2 linked regions of the Homo sapiens genome follow. The protein of the gene in region 1 interacts with the protein of each later gene in a pairwise test. Each region holds a gene or a part of one and is shown in the gene's direction. Other genes may lie near its edges.

Region 1 (8,685 bases):
GGAATAGGAGAATCTTTGGAGATAGGCAGTGACTTGATGGAAAGGTCTTGGAGAGAGGGAGCAAAAGTAGTCCTGGTCTTAAGGGGAGATGGGGAAGGTTAATCACCTACATATAACCATAACTGCATTTATTGTGGGATATAGTAGAGCTGAGCCTTCTCTAGTACCAAATGGTTTGCCTTCCTTCCAGAGAAATCCCAGATCCTGTGATGGGGGACACCAGTGAGGATGCCTCGATCCATCGATTGGAAGGCACTGATCTGGACTGTCAGGTTGGTGGTCTTATTTGCAAGTCCAAAAGTGCGGCCAGCGAGCAGCATGTCTTCAAGGCTCCTGCTCCCCGCCCTTCATTACTCGGACTGGACTTGCTGGCTTCCCTGAAACGGAGAGAGCGAGAGGAGAAGGACGATGGGGAGGACAAGAAGAAGTCCAAAGTCTCCTCCTACAAGGACTGGGAAGAGAGCAAGGATGACCAGAAGGATGCTGAGGAAGAGGGCGGTGACCAGGCTGGCCAAAATATCCGGAAAGACAGGTAAAGGCCTTAGTATGGGTTAGCCCAGAGGGAAGCGAACGGAGGCTGGAAAATAACAGCTCATGTTTATCTCTCAGTTTTCCTGTTGGAGATTTAGAGCTTTATGATTTTATTATGATTCTGTAATACTGAAGGTAGGTAGGAATTTGTGGGGAAAAACAAAGGTGAATAAAGACGAGATGGTAGAGGTTAGAAATGCCTTGGGTTGTTGCCATATGTGAGCCTGCGTCCCAGGGAGAGAAAGTGGAAAAGGACAGATCACTTGTTTGGACAGCCAAAGGTTTTAGGGCAGAGTTTTTCTCCTATGGAGGGGCCTTTACCAGTTGCTCTCCCTGTTTCAGACATTATCGGTCTGCTCGGGTAGAGACTCCATCCCATCCGGGTGGTGTGAGCGAAGAGTTTTGGGAACGCAGTCGGCAGAGAGAGCGGGAGCGGCGGGAACATGGTGTCTATGCCTCGTCCAAAGAAGAAAAGGATTGGAAGAAGGAGAAATCGCGGGATCGAGACTATGACCGCAAGAGGGACAGAGGTAAACTGTCCAGCACAGTTCCTATTGTCCATTAGCATTCGAATAAATGTGTCAGCCTTTTTCTTGTTGCAGGAGTTTTTGCAACACCCATTTGTTAGGGAGTCCTATTTGCATGATGTCCGCCTGAGTGGTTTTGACCCTGCTGGGATTGGGAATACTAGTTTAAGAAAAGAGCTGTTGCCTGTAACATAGCTGCTCTCCTTGAGTGTGTGGTCTTCGTTTTATTATGAAAATTGATGATAAAGGAGATAATGGGTAAATATGTATAAGAGACCAGCATTTCTAATAGTATTGGTGATAGAGAAAGGACAGTGCTATGGAACAAAGCTAGACAAAAAAATCCAATGCTGTCCTTGCTCAGTATTAAGTTTTATAGCTGATAGAATTGTAACTATTAAAAAAAATGATTCACTGTAAACTCGCACTAGTATTTTTTGAATTCTTGCTGGAAAATAACTGTTACTGTGGGTTTGAAATTTTCTAGGCAGTAACTATTTTTCCCCCTTGGGAGAATGGGGATAGGTGAGTTTCAGGAGTCCACGGATCACATTCGAGCAGTGCAGGTTGCACCTGTGAGTGAGTGGGCAGCCTGTCCTTTCTCTAGGGTGAAGATGTGTATACCTTAGGATGGGATGCATGTTTTTAAGCTTCGTGTGACTCTTCATAGATGAGCGGGATAGAAGTAGGCACAGCAGCAGATCAGAGCGAGATGGAGGGTCAGAGCGTAGCAGCAGAAGAAATGAACCCGAGAGCCCACGACATCGACCTAAAGGTAGACTCACTGTTTTGGTGGCTTGTGAGGATTCAAGTGTATAAAAGGCAGAGTGAGTGACTCTCGTCTTCAGTGAGATTGCTGAGGCATTGAGTCAGAATTCCCGATTCTACCATGAACATCTTGGGATAGTTGGTTCTGAGTCAGGTGGGCACAGCTCTGCACTTGGGGTGGATATGGTTCCTGTAAGGTGAGAGGCTGGTTTGCTGAATGGCCAGTTTTCCAAATGGTAGGAAAGAATAGGGAGCTGGAGGTAGAAGAAGTGTTTATTAAAAAGAACTACTTATATCCAAGAAGGGTGTGTTTGTAGAGATAAAGTAAATATCCCTTAAAATGTTGTCATAAACACAGAATGCAAACTGGACCATTGGCTAGGTGCAGTGGCTCATACCTGTAATCCCAGTACTTTGGGAGGCTGAGGCAGGCAGATTACTTGAGGTCAGGAGTTCGAGACCAGCCTGGCCAACATGGTGAAACCCCATCCCTACTAAAAATACAAAAATTAGCCTGGGGTGGTGGTGGGTACCTATAATCCCAGCTATTCGGTAGGCTGAGGCAGGAGAATCACTTGTACCCGGGAGGCAGAGGTTGCAGTGAGCCAAGATCACACCACTGTACTCCAGCCTGGGCGACAGAGCAAGACTTTGTCTCAAAAAAAGAAAAAAAGGAAAAATACATCCTGGACCATTAAAAATTGAGATATCTTTAAAAACTGTCAAAACCGATCTTAACCGTTATAGATACATGCAAGGTTTAGAAATAGTAAAAGGAGTAAATTTGGGGAATTGACTTTTGGCAACTGGTTCTAGACCATGTCATGGTTAAGTGAGATGTTTCCTGTGGATGTGTCTTTTGTGGCCCAGATGCAGCCACCCCTTCAAGGTCTACCTGGGAGGAAGAGGACAGTGGCTATGGCTCCTCAAGGCGCTCACAGTGGGAATCGCCCTCCCCGACGCCTTCCTATCGGGATTCTGAGCGGAGCCATCGGCTGTCCACTCGAGATCGAGACAGGTGATGTTCTGGGCAGAGCAGCCCAGTTTCGCTGGGTGGGCGGTAAGGAGCCTCGGCAGGGAGAGCAGATGGTGGCCAGGAGGACGTGGCTTAGCTCAGTGACAGTTTTGTGATGCTGGTGCTGCTGTTCCCAGGTCTGTGAGGGGCAAGTACTCGGATGACACGCCTCTGCCAACTCCCTCCTACAAATATAACGAGTGGGCCGATGACAGAAGACACTTGGGGTCCACCCCGCGTCTGTCCAGGGGCCGAGGTGAGGCCTGTGGGGCAGCAGGCAGAAGAGCAGGCTTGCTTGCCCTAGCGAGGATGAGCAGGGGCTGCCCTTCTGGAGCTGCATGGCCCTGCAGATCTGTCTGGGGCCGCTGGGGACAGGCCAGGGCATGGACTGACCTGCTTCCTGTGCTCCTCCAGGAAGACGTGAGGAGGGCGAAGAAGGAATTTCATTTGACACGGAGGAGGAGCGGCAGCAGTGGGAAGATGACCAGAGGGTAAAGTTTTATACCTCTGAGGGGCTGATCGGGGCTGGTGGCCGTCTGTAGATGGGTGACCCTCTAGCAGGACTGGGCTTTGATGAGGGTACACCTGAGCCCTGTTCAGACCCAATGCCCTGGAGTCTCTTTGCAGAGGCATAGACGGCACGGTGAACCCTGTCACTCACTGCAGTAGGCTGACCTAACTGTTCTGTTATGTGTTGGTGCCACCATGTGGTAAATCTAAGAAGTGCTATCGTGATGGGCTGCCCTCCAGTCCTGTGTAGTTGCCCACTGTGGTTCTCCTCCAGATGGCATGTGTCTGCAGGGAGGCCTCTCCTGCACCCCTCACAAGGGTAGCTCCACTGCAGTAGTGACTTCCTACCAAGCGTCCCTTCTTCTGTTGGCCATGTCTCGTGCATAAACTTGATCTGTCCCTCACTCCCTTGCTTTGCCTCCTGCCCTGCAGCAAGCCGATCGGGATTGGTACATGATGGACGAGGGCTATGACGAGTTCCACAACCCGCTGGCCTACTCCTCCGAGGACTACGTGAGGAGGCGGGAGCAGCACCTGCATAAACAGAAGCAGAAGCGCATTTCAGCTCAGCGGAGACAGATCAATGAGGTGAGGCTGCCTGCAGAAGTTGGAGCAGATTCAGAGCTGGAGGTAGAGCACGTGGGGAAGCAGCAGGTTATCCCCAAGTGAGGGCAGCACAGCTTGTCCCCTGATTGCCGAGAAGCCCAGATCCTCTGGAGGTGGAAGAGGAGTGGGTGATGAGCCTTTTAGTAGCTTAAGGAAAGCCCCGGCTCGTACTTCTCTCTTTTGCAGTACTTCCTTGAGGGGAAGTACTGTTGATGGGAACAGGTGCATTGGGACCTGCCTCTGTGGTCTGTGTTCTTTGTGTCTCTGATGTGGGCTAGGGACACTTACCATTTGTGTGTCCCTCTAGAGGTTCTGATTTAGATGAAAGGTGCTGCTGCTTGGAACAAACTCCTGCAGGTGATTTGGGATCAGCACCTCTTCTGTCTTTGGAGCTGTGGGTAGAGGCCTGTGACATCTTTGCAGCTACCAGTGGCCTTCTGTCAGGACTTGATGTGTGGACTTACCTCATAACCTTTCAGGACGACCTTTGGGGTGGCAATTTGAGTGTGGCTCCCATTGTGTCCTCACAGGATAACGAGCGCTGGGAGACAAACCGCATGCTCACCAGTGGGGTGGTCCATCGGCTGGAGGTGGATGAGGACTTTGAAGAGGACAACGCGGCCAAGGTGCATCTGATGGTGCACAATCTGGTGCCTCCCTTTCTGGATGGGCGCATTGTCTTCACCAAGCAGGTGAGGCTCCTCTGTGGCCAGGGACAAGACAGCTCAGAGAGACCTGATGTGGGCCAGGTGCAGTGGCTCATGCCTGTCATCCCGGCACTTTGGGAGGCTGAGGAGGGTGGATCATTGGATACCAGGAGTTCAAGGCCTGCCTGGGCAATATAGTGAAACCCTGTCTCAAAAGTACAAAAATTAGCCGGGTGTGGTGGCAGGCACCTGTAGTTTCAGCTACTCGGGAGGCTGAGGCAGGAGAGTTGCTTGAACCTGGGAGGCAGAACCTGCAGTGAGCAGAGATCACACCACTGCACTCCAGTCTGGGCGACAGAGCAAGACTCTGTCTCACACACAAAAAAGGCCTGATGTGGAGACAGAAAGAAGAGAAGGGAGAAAATAGCCCTGTACCATGAGAGGGTAGCAGTCCCTTTCACAAGTAGGGATCTTATGAACATGGCCTTCTTGCTGATTTTAACGGGCATCGCTCTTTCTCCCCACTGCTGCAGCCGGAGCCGGTGATTCCAGTGAAGGATGCTACTTCTGACCTGGCCATCATTGCTCGGAAAGGCAGCCAGACAGTGCGGAAGCACAGGGAGCAGAAGGAGCGCAAGAAGGTTGGTTTCTTGGTTTCGTGGCTGGGAAGTTTATGTGTATTTTTTTCTTTTTTCTTCTCTTCATAAGTCTTACTAGGCCCACAGATAGAAGTTAGGAGTCCCCTCTATCAAGTCCTTAGGCCCGACAGCTGCGGGGCCTGGTGTTGGGAGAGCTGGAGGCTTGAGGATTGGAATGTGGCTCGGTGCCACCAGCACTCTGGGGGAGTTTACCACCTGCGGGGTGAAGTCTGCTCTCCCGTGGGATTGATTTTCCATTGCTCGCAGTCATGTGGCAGGATGGAGCAGACTGACCTTTTTCCTTTTCAGGCTCAGCACAAACACTGGGAACTGGCGGGGACCAAACTGGGAGATATAATGGGCGTCAAGAAGGAGGAAGAGCCAGATAAAGCTGTGACGGAGGATGGGAAGGTGGACTACAGGTGGGCAGCCTCAGCCAGCAGCACATCAGCCTTGCTCCAAAGATGGGGGCCCATGTGGGCAGTTGCGGCAGAACCCATCGACTTTGTGGCTCCTGAGTGGGAGACTCTTAGGATACCTCTCTGCATCTTCCATTCTCTCTGGTCCCTTCCTCCTGGTCTCTTCACTGTCCTCCACTTTTCCTATATGTGATTCCTCCTCCCTCACACTGCTTCCTCTGGTGCTGGTGTTGTGAGAGGAAGGAGGCCCAGGGAGGTTAAGTAACTTGTCTGAGGTCACCCAGCTTGTCAGTGAGGGAGTTAGGATCAGACCCAGGCCGTCTCACATCAGAGCCACTCTGCTGAAGTACCTCCCAGGTGTTCAGCATGGGCAGCTGGGTTTTAGTCCCTTAGATTTGAGTTCACTATAAGAACTATTTTTAAAAGAGGTTCCAAAATAGAAAGGGTTATCTTATTGGCCAGTGACTTCTCTGCTCATAGAGGCATCTAAGCAGATGCTGAGTTGGGATTCCTGCATTGGGCAGGTGGCTGGACTTATCTGTCCCTTAAGATCCTCATCCTTCGAATGCCCTTATGTTCTACTGAACGGTCATCTGAGTTAATAATTCTCTCCACTCCTGTGTGAAATGTCCATACGAGAAGTTGGTACTATTGATCAGCCCTTATTCTTCTCTAGTTAACTTAATTCCTCAGGTATTAGTTATTGGGTGACCAGGAGGGACTGGGTGAAATTAGAAATAGGAAGCTCAGCAGAGCATGGGGCGGCACATCAGACAGGAAGTCTCTGGGGAGGGGGTTGGGGAGGGGTGTGTGGACTGTGTGGAGCACTGAACTGGTGTCTTTTTGCCAGGCAGCCTTGAGAAAGTGACAGTGCTCTGCATCTCGGGTGTGTACATGTGTCAGACATTGAGAGCTTTCAGTAGAGGTTGCAGGTTACTGTTTAGTGGGGCTGTTTTCACAGTTCTTTGAAAACAAAACCGTACAGACTATGCTTTCCTGCTGTCCTGCCAAGAGGAGGGAGGAAGTTTGACCCATGTCCCGTGCTCTGCACCCTTACCTCCTCACAAGGCCTGTGTGGCTATTTTAGCCCTTTAGACGTTGTGCTGAAATTGCCCGAGGGTATTTTCTACAAGTTAGTGACCTGGGGATTGATTTCCACTCCTCTTCTGCTCACTCTGTTTTGGTTAGAGGGTTTGCTAATATGGTGATCTGTAAATCCTCCGATCCATGTTCAGCTAGCTCTGTTGGACCCTGTGGTGTCGAGTGTGTTGTGGATGATGGATTCTCAAGTAGCAGTTTCAGTCCTGAGGTCGATGAGAACCATCTCAGATTCCCTGGCTGCTTTGGTGTCTCAGACTCTTGCCGAAGTCCTCATTCCTGAGCGTAGGAAGGAGGGCAGCAACCCAATCAGGAAGGACAGCATGGGGCACCATGCAGGGTGTTTAGGCTGCTGTGTGTTCCTAGGACAGAGCAGAAGTTTGCAGATCACATGAAGAGAAAGAGCGAAGCCAGCAGTGAATTTGCAAAGAAGAAGTCCATCCTGGAGCAGAGGCAGTACCTGCCCATCTTTGCAGTGCAGCAGGAGCTGCTCACTATTATCAGGTAACTTCACCCGGGGCCCAGGAATCTAGTGTCAAGTCAGGGGTGCCCTTGGTCTCCCATGTTTACCCAGGAGCTCTTTTTCTTTTGTGCATTGCACCCAGTGGAGAAGGGAAATACTTTTTTCCTCTGACCTCATGCCTGGGGTACACTGCACAAAGTAACGGGATGGCACCATTTTGTTTTAGCTCACCTGTTTAAACCTCACCGTATTCCAGATGTTTCAGGTGTTATCTCAGTAAGAGGCTGTTGTCCCAGTGAAATTCTCCCTTCTAAACCGGCATGCTCCCTGGATAGCTAGTCATGGGGATAGGAGGTAGCGGAGTCTTCTTGGAGGCTGGGTGTTGGCCTTCCACTTCGGCTGATAAGCCCTTTGCCTGCTTGTCCTTGTAGAGACAACAGCATCGTGATCGTGGTTGGGGAGACGGGGAGTGGTAAGACCACTCAGCTGACGCAGTACCTGCATGAAGATGGTTACACGGACTATGGGATGATTGGGTGTACCCAGCCCCGGCGTGTAGCTGCCATGTCAGTGGCCAAGAGAGTCAGTGAAGAGATGGGGGGAAACCTTGGCGAGGAGGTGAGTGGGCGTGGGGGCTGAGCCATGTAGTTATTCCCTAGTAGCTTCCACCCATTTTTGCTAAAGGGTGTGATCTGCTAAGACTCGGACCCCAGTACGGGGTGTGCTGGTGGTGAGCCGGTGGCCAGGGCATCTGAGCCATCTCTCTGACCTCCAGGTGGGCTATGCCATCCGCTTTGAAGACTGCACTTCAGAGAACACCTTGATCAAATACATGACTGACGGGATCCTGCTCCGAGAGTCCCTCCGGGAAGCCGACCTGGATCACTACAGTGCCATCATCATGGACGAGGCCCACGAGCGCTCCCTCAACACTGACGTGCTCTTTGGGCTGCTCCGGGAGGTGAGGGCTGTGTGGTTTGGTCTCTCTGCGCATGGGGTGTTGACCAGTGCACCACCAGTAGCTAGTGGGTTGCTCCAGGTGGGCTGAGGGGGTCTCTGGTAGGCCAGAGGTTCCTGAGGCCTCTGGTTGCAGTTCAGACTCGGGTTGTAGTTCATGCTGTTCTTGCTCTGCTGAGGGTGGCTTGGGGTTTTCTGGGCAGTGGCTCCATTGCTTCAGTCTTCATGATTGGTAAGAATTGAATAGGCCCATTTGTCAGCTTTGGCTTGTGTTTCCTCGGGGGTGGTGCTGATGGGACTGGGGGACAGGAGCCAAGGGTCCCCACCATGGGGGCCTCCGAGCCGCCTCTTCTCTCAGGTAGTGGCTCGGCGCTCAGACCTGAAGCTCATCGTCACATCAGCCACGATGGATGCGGAGAAGTTTGCTGCCTTTTTTGGGAATGTCCCCATCTTCCACATCCCTGGCCGTACCTTCCCTGTTGACATCCTCTTCAGCAAGGTATTGA
Region 2 (7,000 bases), on another chromosome or scaffold:
TTCTTGAAGAAGAGTTGACCAAAAGCTTATGTTAGGATGATTTTCTCCTCTGCCATTATGTTAGATTTGCTGGGATGTTTACATTGGTCAAATAGTAGTCAGATTACCAGAATATTCTCTACTTAGAAAAATACATGATATAAATATATAGTTATATGCCAATTTCCAAGACAACATTTTTACTTTAATTTTAAAAATTAGATATAAATCTAAAGGGTAGTTTAGGGTTTTAATAGTAATAAATAAGGAATTAATTTCTCTAGAACTACAGTTTTTGAAAACAGAAGAAAATGATGCCAAGTAGATAATCAAAAGATTTAGTTTACTGCTTCAGCTCCTTTGAGTTATGCTAATAAGTGTATTGTAATATTGCTACTGTCTGAATCTCTGTAGGTAGCCTTTAGTTCTGGGTAAATAAAGAGATGCGAGCTTAATATATTTATGTCTTATAAAATAATTTCATCTGACCAACAGATGCCTACAGAGACCAGGCTTTAATTACTTGAGAAAAACCAGTTAGGTCTTAGAACCAAATGGTTTACCTACCTTACTAAGTTATACTAAATGTTATACTACCAAATTATAGTATGTTCAAAATACACAGTAAATAACCAGAACAGCAGTAGCCTATTTACAAGAGCCTGTTGCATTCACAGTTTCAGATATTCATTGGATACTGTGGCAATTTCTGTTTTGGCCTTTAGTAACAACTTTCATTTTTCTGAAAAACAGAAGTAATGTGGTATGTAGCACAGCTACCTGAAACAGTTGGAAGGTATTTTGAGAATAATGCGCAGGAGAGATATGAGTGGGAATTTATCTGGTATTGAGCTGTATGGATTCTGTAGATTTTGAACAGGACAAACCTACTTGGCTCACTTTCATCTTAAAAATAATACCACACATTATTTCATATGGGCTTATACTTCTTTTGGTTTTGTTTTGTGTATCCCCTTGGCGTGTATTAAGACTTCAATAGTATCTTTTAAATAAATTTAAAAACTTAATTCTACCTTGTGCCTTCTTTAGCATATACTGCCCTAATGAAATAAGCTCCCTTCAGAGATGTTTTCAGCTAATAATAGTTTTGACTAGATACTGGTGGGAGAGGGAGGAGACTTGGGGATTAATTGAGGTGGGAGGGATACTGTGGAATATTGGTCACTTTAAGAAACAATTCAGGAGGGTTTTAGGACTTTAGGGTAATTAATATAACAGAGAAGCTAAAAGTAGAAGTGATTACGGAGCATGGTGGGGGGTAAGGGGGCCAAGGGTGGTGGTGGTGATTACTGAAGTTTAAAAAGAGAAATTAAAGGAGACAGCTTGCTTTCCAAATGTGTTGCCTCTAATACCATGGAAGTGCCATGTATCAACGGTATCACAGTTTAGATGCTGGGCTTGTTCAGAAAACTAGAAACTTCAGCCTAACAATTTTTAAAAGTACGCCATCTACTCTTCTGGTTTCATTACAGTTCCTTTCACTCATACTAGAAAGAAAAAAAGAAACAATAAACTAGCTACTTGTTCCTGCCAAAACTTGTCATTTTCTGTTCTTCCGTTTTGTTTCCCCTATTCCTCAAACAAAAGCAAAACCCAATCAACCAATAAAAACCTGCCTTCATCTGTCATCTCTGTTTTGAATATTTAAGGATTTTTTTTAAGCTTTTGTTTTTTCTGTTTATGGAAATCTTAAGAATGGATTCTGAAGGCCCATTACTTGAATGATTTTGGCAGATGTTCAAATACATAGGGAACTTGATGACATTAAAGCACATTTTTCTTTGTAAGGTTTTCAAGTAGAAGTAGATATGTGGGGATACCAGGTACAGGTTTTGTTTTTTGTTTTTTGTTTTTGTTTTTTAAAGCTACCTTTTTTTCAGTTAGGCTTTTTCTCAACTGTCCATATCTTATTTGGAAATCTTGTTTAGGAAGCAGCCTTAAAACCTTCTCTATTTTGTATTTAGTCTTAAAAATGTAATAGTTGTTGAGATCTTGTGTTTGTGGTATAAGAAAGAATTTGATAAGATTTTGTGTGTTTCTGTATGATGCTTAGACAAGATTTTGTGTGTTTTTATATGATGCTTTTTTGCTTTTCAAAAAACACTTTAGGATTATTTTAAATAGAGTTTGTTAACTTATTCTTAAATGCTAATAGGCTCTTTTGTTTTTGAGAAAAAACATGTTTTGGTGATTTATTCTTCAATGTTTTTGACTCTTGCCTTTGTAAACTTCCAGAGAATAAATAACAAACAAAAAACAGGAAAAAGGCATACACACATGCACACTCATATACAATATCTAGAAACTGAGAGGAAGCAAGGTAGCCAAGACTAATGATCAGTTTTTTTCTTATACAAATAAATATTTTCTTAAAAGTTCTGTCCTCAGGGAACATTATCTAAACTTGCAGTCTTTATGTAAAGGCCTTTTTATTTTCAAATTTCTTGTAATAAATAGTATCCAAAATAACTGTTGAATCACCAGAATCCTATATATTCCCTCTATGCTATCTGTGTTCATGTAATTATGTACACTTTTTTGTGTGTGTAATTTTGTTTTGTAGATTATGTTTAATGAAGAACTTGGGGATCCTTTTATTATAATTCACAGTATCTCACTGCTAAATGCTGAAGAACATTCTATAGCTACCCTACTTCTTCGAATAGAGAAAGAGGAATTGGATATGAAAGGAAGTGGTTTCTATGTTTCTCTGGAGTGGGTCACTATCAGTAAGAAAAATCAAGGTAAAACAAAAGTCTGAATCTGTCTCTACTGGTTGGCATTATTTAGTAGATTTTGAAACACAAAGCTGTCCCTGTAAATACTGTTTGCTCTTTCTTGGGCATTGTGTTACAATTCTGGCACCTGCCACCACTGGTGGAATGAATATGTATAGATAGTTTTTCCTCAGGTATATTTTATAGAAAAAAATTGCAGTGTGCATCCACAGCCAATTATGCCTTTTATATAAAAGAAGACATTGTTATATAAGTTTTGAATAATTTAACGGGTATATTTTTAATATATACAAAAATATATGCATATATATGTGTGATACACAGAAACATATACCTAAAACTAAATGTAAATTAATACATTATAGTATAATTTAAATGTAAATAAATATAAATACTTACTTGGAAATGAATGTCTTTATTTCATTAAAGTACAGGTATGATTTCTTTTAAATCTAATTGAACTTCATTATTTGTTTCTACATTTAGGAAAACTGTTACTTTTTCTTACCTGATGTGCTCCCATGTTTAGAATAGTCCTGAACTTTGGTCTGTTTGAAGCTGTCTGTCAAGCTTCTAACTTGACATTAAAAATTACAATCTCATGAATTAATTAGGATTTCTTTAAGGTATTAAGAAATCTCTTTGCCTTTGCTTAGTTCCTGCTGACTCATTGAGTGTTTTCTTTTTAACTGTAGTTGAGTACTGAGAGTGCTTGTTTCCATAATGACTCTATGCTCTTTTTCTCAGTAGTTTTTATTAGCTGACTCATTTATGAGTAAGTTAATATAAATTAAATTATCATTCATCTCTGTAGAAAAATATTTCTTTACCATAGCTGCTAGTTTGCAATTCAGTAAAGACTGTTAGTATTTGTTTCCTAAGAGGGTTTTGCCTTTTATTCTAAAACAGCTATCTGTCTATCTAATAGATATCTCAAAATTGTTTATAAATAAACTGAATAAGTCTCCTAGATTTGTTCTTTGAAGTATTCAATATAATTTATTAGTTCTTTTTGGTGTTGTAGTTTTATCTCTGGAGGAACACAGTAACTTTAAACTTTAATTAGATATTAGAAAACTTTTTTGAAATCCCAGTTGGTAACCATAAGATCTATGTCACAGCTATCCGAGTATGCCAACACAGTACAAAAGCATCCATAGACAATATATAAATGAATGAGTATAGTTGTGTTCCAATCATACTTTATGGACATAGGAATTTGAATTTTATGTTTTTTTGACATATATTTAAATATTATTCTTTAAATATTACTATTTTAACAATTTAAAAATATAAAATTCATGCTTAGCTCACAGGCCATACAAAAATAGGCCTAGATTCAGCTTTGGCTCAAGGGTCCTAGTTTGCAGAACCCCTGCTTTAGATAATGGAAGCCTTAATTTTTTTAAGGTACGTAATTCAAAATCTTACAGGAGACATTGTCATGCATATTCCTCCTCCTTTCTCCAAGACACTTGGTTCTGTAACATCTTTTTCTCAATCTGTGGTAACTCATCAAATTGCCTCAGAACATAGCAGTACTCTGCTCCAGCTCTACTTCTCCATCCCGTTTGTCTTCGTTTCTTTGCCTCAGCTGGACAAATACATTGAGACTAACCTTTTTTCTCCCAAGATTGTAGTTATAGAATCATTAATTCTCTTTATTGTTCCCTTTATCTTTCTTTTATATCTTGTTCCTTCTCTCCCAGACTACTACTAATATGATTGGTTTTTTTCTTCTTTTTCTTTTTAGTTAACAGAACAGTATTTTCGTAAACTATTTTGAATGAAACATTTCATAAAGTATATTTATGGTCAGATAAGTTTGAAAATGTGGACATAAAATAGCTCCATTACACATTAAGCATATTAAAGTTTCTAAAAATTGTGAGTAAAAAAAGTTTAGGTTAGATGCAAAGGCTCATGCCTGTAATCTCAGCACTTTGGGAGGTCAAAGCAGGAGGATCACTTGAGCCCAGGAGTTTGAGACCAGTCTGGGCAACATAGTGAGCCACCGTCTCTACAAAAATTACAGAAACATTAGCTCGGCATGGTGTTGTGCACCTATAGTTCCAGCTATTCAGGAGGATTGCTTGAGCCTGGGAGTTTGAGGCTACAGTGAGCAGTGATCGTGCCACTGCATTTAGCTTGGGCAACAGGGTAAGACCCTGTCTCAAACAAACAAAAAACAATTTACATTTAATTTTAACCTAGCATTTCTCCACATATTTAACCACGGAATCCGGTTTTTGAGGCTTCCTATTCTTTTCTGTCCCATGCATGCTGGGAAAGGCCACGCTATAAATATGTGATGTCGGTGTTTGGATCTTTAAAGTCAAGTAGGACTTTTGGCCCTGCATGTATCTATAGGGGAAGTGTAGGAGTTTTGTTCATTCATTAAATTACAAGCCTGTTCTTAAATATGTGTGAACTGAATGTGTGAATGTAGGTGAGGATTTTGAGTAAAAACAATGAGATATTTTAGAACAGATGGTATTATTATGTAAAAACTCATAATAATATGACATTAAGTTGTGATTTTCGACTACTCAGTATGAAGCCTACAAGTATAACCCACTTAAAGAGTAACAGTATAGGTAAAAGTATGGAGTCAGCTAAAATGTTTGAGTACTTTTTAAAGCAAAAAATTACTGTCTTTATAGGAAAATAAGTTTAATTTGTCAGAAACTTTTGGAATACAGTTAATTGTTTATATCTTAAAAGTAGCACTAATTTATGTTTAATTATAAGCATATAGATAAATGTCTTGTGTAAAAAAAATCATTTCTGCTATAAATTTATTTCATTGTTAAAATGCCCCTTATCGGGAGTTAGAGCAGGCAGAAAAATAGACCACACTGCATGTTTCCCCTTGTCCTCAATTTGTCACTTTTCAGAAGAAACTTATCACATACCTGCTGAGAAGGCAGACAGGCTTTAGTCAAGGAGAGGTAGGTCATACAGAAGCTGTTATTCCAAGTAAGCCGGTCATGTTGGAGTTCTGGGGTACTGCTGTCTAATAAGAGATTTCTCCAAGATGGACATGTTTTATATGTGTACCATTCACTGCAGTAGCTACTAGCCATGTGTGGCTATTGAGCAATTAAAATGTGGCTAGTATGACTGAGGAATTTAAATTTTACTTAATTTTAAGTAGATACTTCTGGCCAGTGACTACCACATTGGACAGGACAATCGGGAACAAATTTCACCAGACCCAATATTTTAAAATAGGGACTTATTTACGGAAAATTAGATTGTAAATTGTTTATCCTTATGAAAAGACTCTTAATAGTGTACCTTTTAATAATACATTCAAATTATTTAATTATAATTAAAATCAATTTTTAAATATCAGAATATTTTGATAATAGTTTTTATTTGTAATGTTTTGTTCTGAAATACTTTTCTTACAGATAATAAAAAATATGAAATTATTAAGCGTGATATTCTCCGTGGAAAGTCAGTGCCACATTATGCTGCTATTGAGCCTGATGGAAATGGTCTAATGATTGTATCCTACAAGTCTTTAACATTTGTTCAGGCTGGTCAAGATCTTGAAGAAAATATGGATGAAGACATATCAGAGAAAATCAAAGGTAATTTTTATTCTTAATAGAGCTTATTGGTATTTTCATAAACATATATTTATGTCTTTTATTTTCCCAGTTAGGTTAATAGTTCTACAAGGGCAAGATAGATGCATAATTTTTTCTTTATTTTCTCATGTATTTTCCAGAAGTCTTTTATAAGGTATACCACCTTAATAGTGTGAATGAACTGGTTTAATTTGATCATTTTGTTATTACCAAAAATGTTTTTTTAAAAAATCGTTTATTAGCTTCCTTGATTAGGTGCTTAATAAATAGTTATCAAATAAATGTCTATTTGCTATTAGTATTGATGGTATTAATAGTGTAATATTGAAGATACTAATTTTTAAAAATAAGTTAAGCTAATGTACCTGTTCTTACCTTTTATACTAAACTGAAAGTAAGTTCCTTGAGGGCAGAATCACATAATTTTATTAATGTTGAATGAATGAATGAAGGTTATGTTTTAGCATGAAAAGACTGGCCAGGCACGGCAGCTCACGCCTGTAATCCCAGCACTTTGGGAGGCCTAGGTGGGCGGATCAAAAGGTCAGGAGATCGAGACCATCCTGGCTGACACGATGAAACCCCGTCTCTACTAAAAATACAAAAAAAAATCCGGATGTGGTGGTGGGTGCCTGTAGTGCCAGCTACTTGGGAGGCTGAGGC

The links. The genes of interacting proteins can lie anywhere in the genome.
Region 2: the proteins of DHX38 (region 1) and NUDCD1 interact in binary tests that used the Homo sapiens proteins (3 or more experiments, as listed by UniProt).

Annotation. Positions count from the first base shown.
Region 1 is NC_000016.10:72,095,949-72,104,633, forward strand, and holds part of DHX38 (pre-mRNA-splicing factor ATP-dependent RNA helicase PRP16), read left to right. Parts: intron 1-190; 5' UTR 191-209; coding exon 210-532; intron 533-873; coding exon 874-1,061; intron 1,062-1,728; coding exon 1,729-1,833; intron 1,834-2,696; coding exon 2,697-2,844; intron 2,845-2,978; coding exon 2,979-3,097; intron 3,098-3,255; coding exon 3,256-3,332; intron 3,333-3,783; coding exon 3,784-3,939; intron 3,940-4,487; coding exon 4,488-4,649; intron 4,650-5,137; coding exon 5,138-5,245; intron 5,246-5,551; coding exon 5,552-5,664; intron 5,665-7,125; coding exon 7,126-7,263; intron 7,264-7,653; coding exon 7,654-7,840; intron 7,841-7,997; coding exon 7,998-8,183; intron 8,184-8,537; coding exon 8,538-8,678; intron 8,679-8,685. UniProt on the Homo sapiens protein: Probable ATP-binding RNA helicase. Involved in pre-mRNA splicing as component of the spliceosome.
Region 2 is NC_000008.11:109,289,088-109,296,087, reverse strand, and holds part of NUDCD1 (nudC domain-containing protein 1), read left to right. Parts: intron 1-2,563; coding exon 2,564-2,744; intron 2,745-6,154; coding exon 6,155-6,337; intron 6,338-7,000.